Linked DNA regions of Homo sapiens. The protein of the gene in region 2 purifies or fractionates together with the protein of the main gene of each other region. This does not show direct contact. Each region holds a gene or a part of one and is shown on either strand. Other genes may lie near its edges.

Region 1 (3,500 bases), on a different chromosome or scaffold from region 2:
AAAAAAAGTAATGAATTACAGTGTTCACGCCTGTAATCCCAACACTTTGTGACACTGAGGAGGGAGGATCACTTGAGGCCAGGGGTTTAAGACCAGCCTGGGCAACATAGTGAAACCCCATCTCTACAAAAAATACAACCAAACAAAACTAGCCAGGCATTGTGGTAGCTCATGCCTGTAGTTGCAGCTACTCAGGAGGCTGAGACGGGAAGATGGCTTGAACCCAGCAGTTTGAGTTACAGTAAGCTGTGATGGCATCACTGCACTCCATTCTGGGTGACAGAGTTGAGACCCTGTCTCTTTTAGTTTTTGTTTGTTTGTTTTGAGATGGAGTCTTGCTCTGTCACCCAGGCTGGAGTGCAATGCCACAATCTTGGCTCACTGCGACCTCTCCCTCCCGGGTTCAAGTGATTCTCCTGCCTCAGCCTCCTGAGTAGCTGGGATTACAGGCACCCGCCACCATGCCTGGCTAATTTTTGCATTTTTAGTAGAGACGGGGTTTCACCATGTTGGCCAGGCTGGTCTTGAACTCCTGACCTCAGGTGATCCACCTGCCTCGGCCTCCCAAAGTGCTGGGATTACTGGTGTGAGTCACCACGCTTGGCCTCCTGTCTCTTAAAAAAAAAAAAAAATTGAATCATTTCAGGAAAAGATTACAAAGGAAAGAAAAAGGAACATAGGACAGGTGGAACAAGTAAAAGCTAGACAGTAAAGTGGTAGACGTAAGCCCAGCTATATCAGTAATTACACTAAATGTAAATGGACAAAATGCTCTAGTTAGACAGATTTCCTGACTGGATCCACACAAACAAAAACAGAAGAATCACACCCATCTCTCCTTGGTGTCCCCACCCCCAGCCTCAGGTTTGGTGGTGGTGGTGGTGGTGGTGGTGTTGTTGTTTAAGTATTTTTTAGTTTTGTGTGTGTGTGTGTGTGTATTTTTAGTAGAGATGGTGTTTCACCATGTTGTCCAGGCTGATCTCGAACTCCTGACCTCAAGTGATCCAGCCACTTCAGCCTCCCAAAGTGCTGGGTGTACAGGCATAAGCCACCACGCCAGCTAGTTTTCTTAACTCTAAAATAAGACAGTGGGTTTCTCAATGGTTTCTTAGTCAGGGTGGTGCCACCCCCTGCTCTGGGGGGCATTTGTCAATGTGTAGGTAGGGCCAGTTCTGGTGGTACAGGGATGGGGGTGGCACTGCTGGCTTCCAGGGATGGGGCTGGCTATGTCGGTGGTCCTGTACCATAGAGAGCTGCCCAGAATGTCAGTGTGAGGGAAACACTGGGCCAGTGGCCTCTTCAGGCCGCAGTCTTTCCAGCATGCATTTGATGTAGTCACTTCCTTGTGCATGTCCAGAACTCTGAGCCAGGGAACCCACTTCTTTCCACCTGACCATTGAGGAGCCGCCTTATAGTCCCATTTTGCAGATTTGGGAACTGAGGCCCAGGAGGGGCAGAGTGGCTTGTACATAAGCCTATGCCACTGGGAAATGGCAGAGGCGGGACCCCTCCCCCGCCGGCCCACGTTCACTGCACATGGCCCCCAGGGCTTCACTCCGCATGATTCTCTCCCCGACAGAGCGTCACGGGGTTCGGACGTCAGATGATCGAGAAAACCAAGCAGCTGGTGGAGTCTAAGTACACAGTGGAGAATGGCTACAGCACCAGTGCCAAGGTCGGGGGCTGCCCACCGCTGCCCTGAGATGGGCCCAGGGCAGGTGGGGGGATGGAAGCCGGGCCGGACCCCCATGTCCCCGTGCCTCCTGGTCACACCCTGCCCACTCTCCTGTTGCATCCTTGGGTCCCGTTGGCATTAGCCACCTGCCACCCCCCGACACCAGTAGTTGACAGAAGGGACCCTGCTTCTCACATACACACATCCCCACCGCCCGCAGGTGGTGTATGGTGACACTGACTCCGTCATGTGCCGATTCGGCGTGTCCTCGGTGGCTGAGGCGATGGCCCTGGGGCGGGAGGCCGCGGACTGGGTGTCAGGTCACTTCCCGTCGCCCATCCGGCTGGAGTTTGAGAAGGTGCGTGGCTGGGTCAGGGGCTCTGCATTTAGGTGCCCTCATCAGGGTACTCAGGGTGTCCCGTTCTTTGGGTTCACAAAAGCCACAGTGTGAAGGGATGTTGCTGCTTAGATTCTCCTGAGGCTGGGGCCTTGGTTTGGGAAGCCTCCAAGGCCTTGGGCTTTGTTACCCTGGATGGCATCTGTTCTTTGAAAACCCTGTCGCTGTCCCTGGTTTTGAGGTGTCACAGTGTCCCTGGTTTTGAGGTTTCCCAGTACCTGTCAGATGTGGAGCTGCCCTCCACGCAGGGACCCTGATGGGGGTGCACCTTAGATCTGTGCACCATTGCCCCTGGCCCTCTGAGTGCGGCACACTTGGTCCCAGGAAACCTTGCACCATATTTTCTTTTGAAGAGTCTGGGTCTCGCTCTGTCGCCCAGGCTGGAGTGCAGTGGCGAGTTCACAGCTCACTGCAGCCTCCAACTCCTGGGCTCCGGCGATCCTCCCGCCTTGGCCTCCTGAGCCGCCACGCCCAGTTCTCACACTGTACTGTTTCCCCGTGGCTTAACGCTCTCTCGTGCCAGGCCTTGGACTTGGAGCCTCGCAGAGTGGGGAGGTCTCTGCCTCAGGGCTCACCCAGCCGTAGTTTCTCCTCTCTTTCATGGGATGCTTCATCGACTCGCCTGTCTGGATCTCATGTTTTAGGGACTATCTGGATTTATCCCAGTCTCTGTTTCAGATTGGGGTCTCTGGTGTGGGGGCTCTGGCATTGCCGAGGGGCCTCAGGAGCCACTTCCAGCCATACAGTGTCTCGGTCCATCCCACCAGGCTCAGGGCACGGCTCCCATGTCCTCAAACTGCGTCTGGGACCCTGTCTACCTTCAGTTTCTGGGGGGCGTCTCCAGATTGGGGCTTGGCCTCCTCAGGCTCAGGGTCTTGGCCATGGCTCCCTCCCAGGTCTACTTCCCATACCTGCTTATCAGCAAGAAGCGCTACGCGGGCCTGCTCTTCTCCTCCCGGCCCGACGCCCACGACCGCATGGACTGCAAGGGCCTGGAGGCCGTGCGCAGGGACAACTGCCCCCTCGTGGCCAACCTGGTCACTGCCTCACTGCGCCGCCTGCTCATCGACCGGTGTGTGGGGCCTCCTCCCTCAGACTCAGGGGGCTGGGCCCCAAACCCCTCCTCCCTCAGACCCAGGAGTCTAGGCCCCAGCCCCTCCTCCCTCAGACCCACGGGTCCAGGCCCCCAGCCCCCTCCTCCTCAGATCCCGGGGTCAGGGCCCCCAGCCCCTTCCTCTCTTAGATACAAGAGTCCAGACCCCCAGCCCCTCCTCCTCTGGGAACACAGGTGTCAGGCCCAGCTCTTCCTCGGTGGTGAAGCAGTGGAAAGAGTCGGCTTGGGCAGCTGTGGGTTCAGGCCCTGCCTCTGCCACTCTGCAGCCTATGGTAGGAAGGGCCCCTCTCTGCCCTGAGCCTCAGCCCTAAGAG
Region 2 (3,500 bases):
AACAAAAAAACGCTGAAGAGCATCAAGAGCGAGGGAAGAGCCTGACCTGGGGGCTGAGTAGCACCAAGTCAACGCTGTTGGCCGACAGCCCTTGCCCCGCTAGCAGGTTTGGCCTCAAGCTTCCCAGCCTACCCAGAGTGAGGAATCCAGGAGACCCCCACAGGGCCACATCTTAGAAGTCAGGGCCAGAAGCAAGCCTGTCCCAACCAACTTGCCCCGAAGACTGCAGGGGAAATGGCTGAACAGAATGAGAAAAAAGCAGAATGGAGCCCGACGCAGGTGCTCATGCCTGTAGCCCCAGCACTTTGGGAGGCCAAGGCAGGAGAATTGTTTGAGCTCAGGAGTTCAAGACCAGCCTGGGCATCATGGGAGACCCTGTCTCTATAAAACAATTTTAAAAATGTAGCCAGGTATGGTGGTACACACCTGGTCCCAGCTACTAGGGAGGCAGGAGGATCCCTTCAGTGCAGGAGTTCAAGGCTGCAGTGAGCCACGATTGCACCACTGCACTCCAGCCTGGATGACAGAGTGAGACCTTGTCTCTCAAAAAAATACAGAAGAATAATGTAAAAAAAAAAAAAAACACTCTCCTGATAAATCATGACCATGGATCAGCCCGACACAGCCCTACACTGACTTGCTACCTGGGAGTTTCACAGAATTTCATCCTGTGAACTTGGTCACTCTCAGGCTGAACAGACCCAAAGACACCTAGCAAAAGCAAAAGCAAAAGCAAACCCTCTCTGGAGGAAGGTACCTCGTCTTTGGCATCTAGGAACCCCTACAAATAATTCTTCAAACATAATGAGCTGCACACTGCCACAGACAGCCAAGCACACAAGAAACTAAGGAGCCAGGAGCATGAACCAGCAGAAACAACAGACACTAAAAACAGACCACACAGGCTGGGTGCAGCGGCTCAGGCTCACACCTATAACCCCCGCACTTTAGGAGGCCACAGTGGGAGGATCGTTTAGCCCAGGAGTTACATGAGACCCTGTTTCTACATACAAAATTTTTTTTAATTACCTAGGCATGGTGGTGTGCACCTGTAATCCCAGCTACTCAAGAGGATGGCTTGAACCCAGGGGCTATGATCACACCACTGCACTTCAGCTTGGGCAACAGAGTGAGACCTTGTCTCTAAAAAAAACTTTCACAGACTACACAGACTTGAAAAAATGGAATTGCCTGATTATAAAACATCACAAAAAATTATTCAAAGTTTTTTTTTTTTTTTTTGAGATGGAGTCTTGCTCTGTCACCCAGGCTGGAGTGCAGTGGCATGATCTCAGCCCACTGTAACCTCTGCCTTATGGTCTGAAGCAATTCTCCTGCCTCAGCCTCCCAAGTAGCTGGGATTACAGGCGTCCACCACCATGCCCGGCTAATTTTTGTATTTTTAGTAGAGATGGGGTTTCACCTTGTTGACCAGGCTGGTCTCAAACTCCTGACCTCGTGATCCACCTGCCTCAGCCTCCCAAAGTGCTGGGATTACAGGTGTGAACTACTGTGCCCAGCCTAATTTTTGTACTTTTAGTAGAGACAGGGTTTCATCATGTTGGCCAGACTGGTCTCAAACTCCTGACCTCAAATGACCCACCCGCCTTGGCCTCCCAAAGTGCTGGGATTATAGACGTCAAACTATGTTTAAAGACACAAATGGTGAGCTTGAGAATACCTAGAATAGAAAACTATAAAAAGTAACATTGCAGATTTGACAAAAATAACAAAACTTTTAGAAATAAAAACTTTCATAATCAAAATGTAAAACTCAATGGACGGAGGGAACCACTCATGGAGGGGTTCAGCAGCAAATAAAACACAGCAGAAGAGGGCATTCGTGAACTGGAAGACAGATGAGAAGAAATCACACAGAATGCAGCACAGAGAGACACGATGATGACAATATGGAGGGGAGATTAAGAGACACAGAAGACGGACTGAGACATTCTATCCTGAATCACAGTCCCAAAAGGAGAGGAAAACACAGACAATATCTGAAGCAATAATGGCTAAGAATTTCTAGAACTGGTAAAAGATACCAAGCCACAGGTTTAAGAAATTCAGTAATTCCAAGGAGATGAAAAAGAACGTACACACACACACCACACACTGAAAACTTTAGAAGATCAGAAAGAATGATCTTTAAGTGGCCCAAGGGGGGCCAGGAGAGAGGCAGAATCCCTTCACAGCAGCAGCTACCGACAGCAAAGTTCCCAACAGCGAGGAGGCCAGAGGACAGCGGGTCAGCGTTTCCACCGGGATAAAAGAAAACAAACAACAGCCTGAAGCCATGCGCCTGTGGAAAAGAGCCTTCAAGAATGAGGATGAAATAAAGGTATTTTCAGACACGCCAGAAGTGAAGAAGTGGTCACCAGGAGACCTTTACTGCAGGAAATGAACGAGGATATGTTTGCAACATAATCCCAGACAGAAGATCGGACACAAGAGAGTGGAGGGCAGAGAAAGTGGCCATAAAATAATAATCCTGGTGAGATTGCTTAAAATACGGAACACACATCACAACAAGAAGATGTAAGTGGCTGAAGGAACAAGCATGCGGAGTCTCAGCATCCTCCAGGGCTGCCCAAGCTTCTGGCAGCTCAAGACACCGAACTGGGAGTTGGTGAGCTAGACCCGCCACCTCCCGCGCGAAGACTGCCGGGCTGTGCGACTTCTGAACTCCTGAGGAGGAAATGCTGGATAAACCCGCCCGATTCAAATGAAGCAAGAAAGGAGCCGCAGGCAGGTCCCAGGAGAACCGAAGAAGTGGCTGTGAGTGAAGCAGGCCTGTGGAGACACAGCAGCAGGCAGGTCTGCTGAGACCCCCAGTCTGGGCTGACTGGGGAAGCCCCCCATTACAGGAGGGAATTCTTTATCCCCACAGTAACTAAGAGTGGTGTCCTGAACTGATGCCAAATGACAGCATGTCCCTCAACCTTACTCCACAAGCTACTCAACCAACACGATGGGGTGAATGAGGCAACACAAGCCTGTTTTCTTATGAAATGAAGTGTCCTCTGACCAGAGACAGAGAGAGGCCTCACTCTACACCTTTACCCATGACCACCAGGAAGGCCAGGTCCTGGATTCCTGATTCCTTTGGAAGCAGAGATGTCAGGAGACACGGGAACCGACTGTCCTTGGCGGGGGGTCCCTCCATCCCCTTCCTCACACCAACAGTGGCACCATCAGAGCAGACGCTCGAGCCCAACCACCCATCTCAAGGCACACATCGAGGAAGCCCACCGAGGAAAGCCACGTTCACAGCCCTGGGCTTGGGTGGACACAAGATGGACACCGTGGTGATGATCCCCAAAGTGCCCTCCGACCCGATGAACAGCTGCTTCAGGTCATAGCCCGTGTTGTCCTTCCTCAGGGAGGTCAGGCAGTCCAGGACAGTGCCGTCGGCCAGCACCTTGGGGCAAAGAGAAGCACGTTCACCCACCTGCCAGCCTCCTGACAAGACGTCGGTCGCCTCCGGGGCCAGGTGTCAC

Evidence for each region. Proteins that work in one complex are often made in the same cells at the same time.
Region 1: the proteins of D2HGDH (region 2) and POLD1 purify together in Homo sapiens (affinity purification with mass spectrometry; one large-scale study listed by BioGRID and IntAct). This does not show direct contact.

Annotation. Positions count from the first base shown.
Region 1 is NC_000019.10:50,411,847-50,415,346, forward strand, and holds part of POLD1 (DNA polymerase delta catalytic subunit), read left to right. Parts: intron 1-1,579; coding exon 1,580-1,675; intron 1,676-1,895; coding exon 1,896-2,033; intron 2,034-2,968; coding exon 2,969-3,144; intron 3,145-3,500. UniProt on the Homo sapiens protein: As the catalytic component of the trimeric (Pol-delta3 complex) and tetrameric DNA polymerase delta complexes (Pol-delta4 complex), plays a crucial role in high fidelity genome replication, including in lagging strand synthesis, and repair.
Region 2 is NC_000002.12:241,744,630-241,748,129, reverse strand, and holds part of D2HGDH (D-2-hydroxyglutarate dehydrogenase, mitochondrial isoform 1 precursor), read right to left. Parts: intron 3,422-3,500; coding exon 3,253-3,421; intron 2,794-3,252; coding exon of another isoform or gene 2,375-2,793; exon of another isoform or gene 1,081-2,374; intron 1-1,080.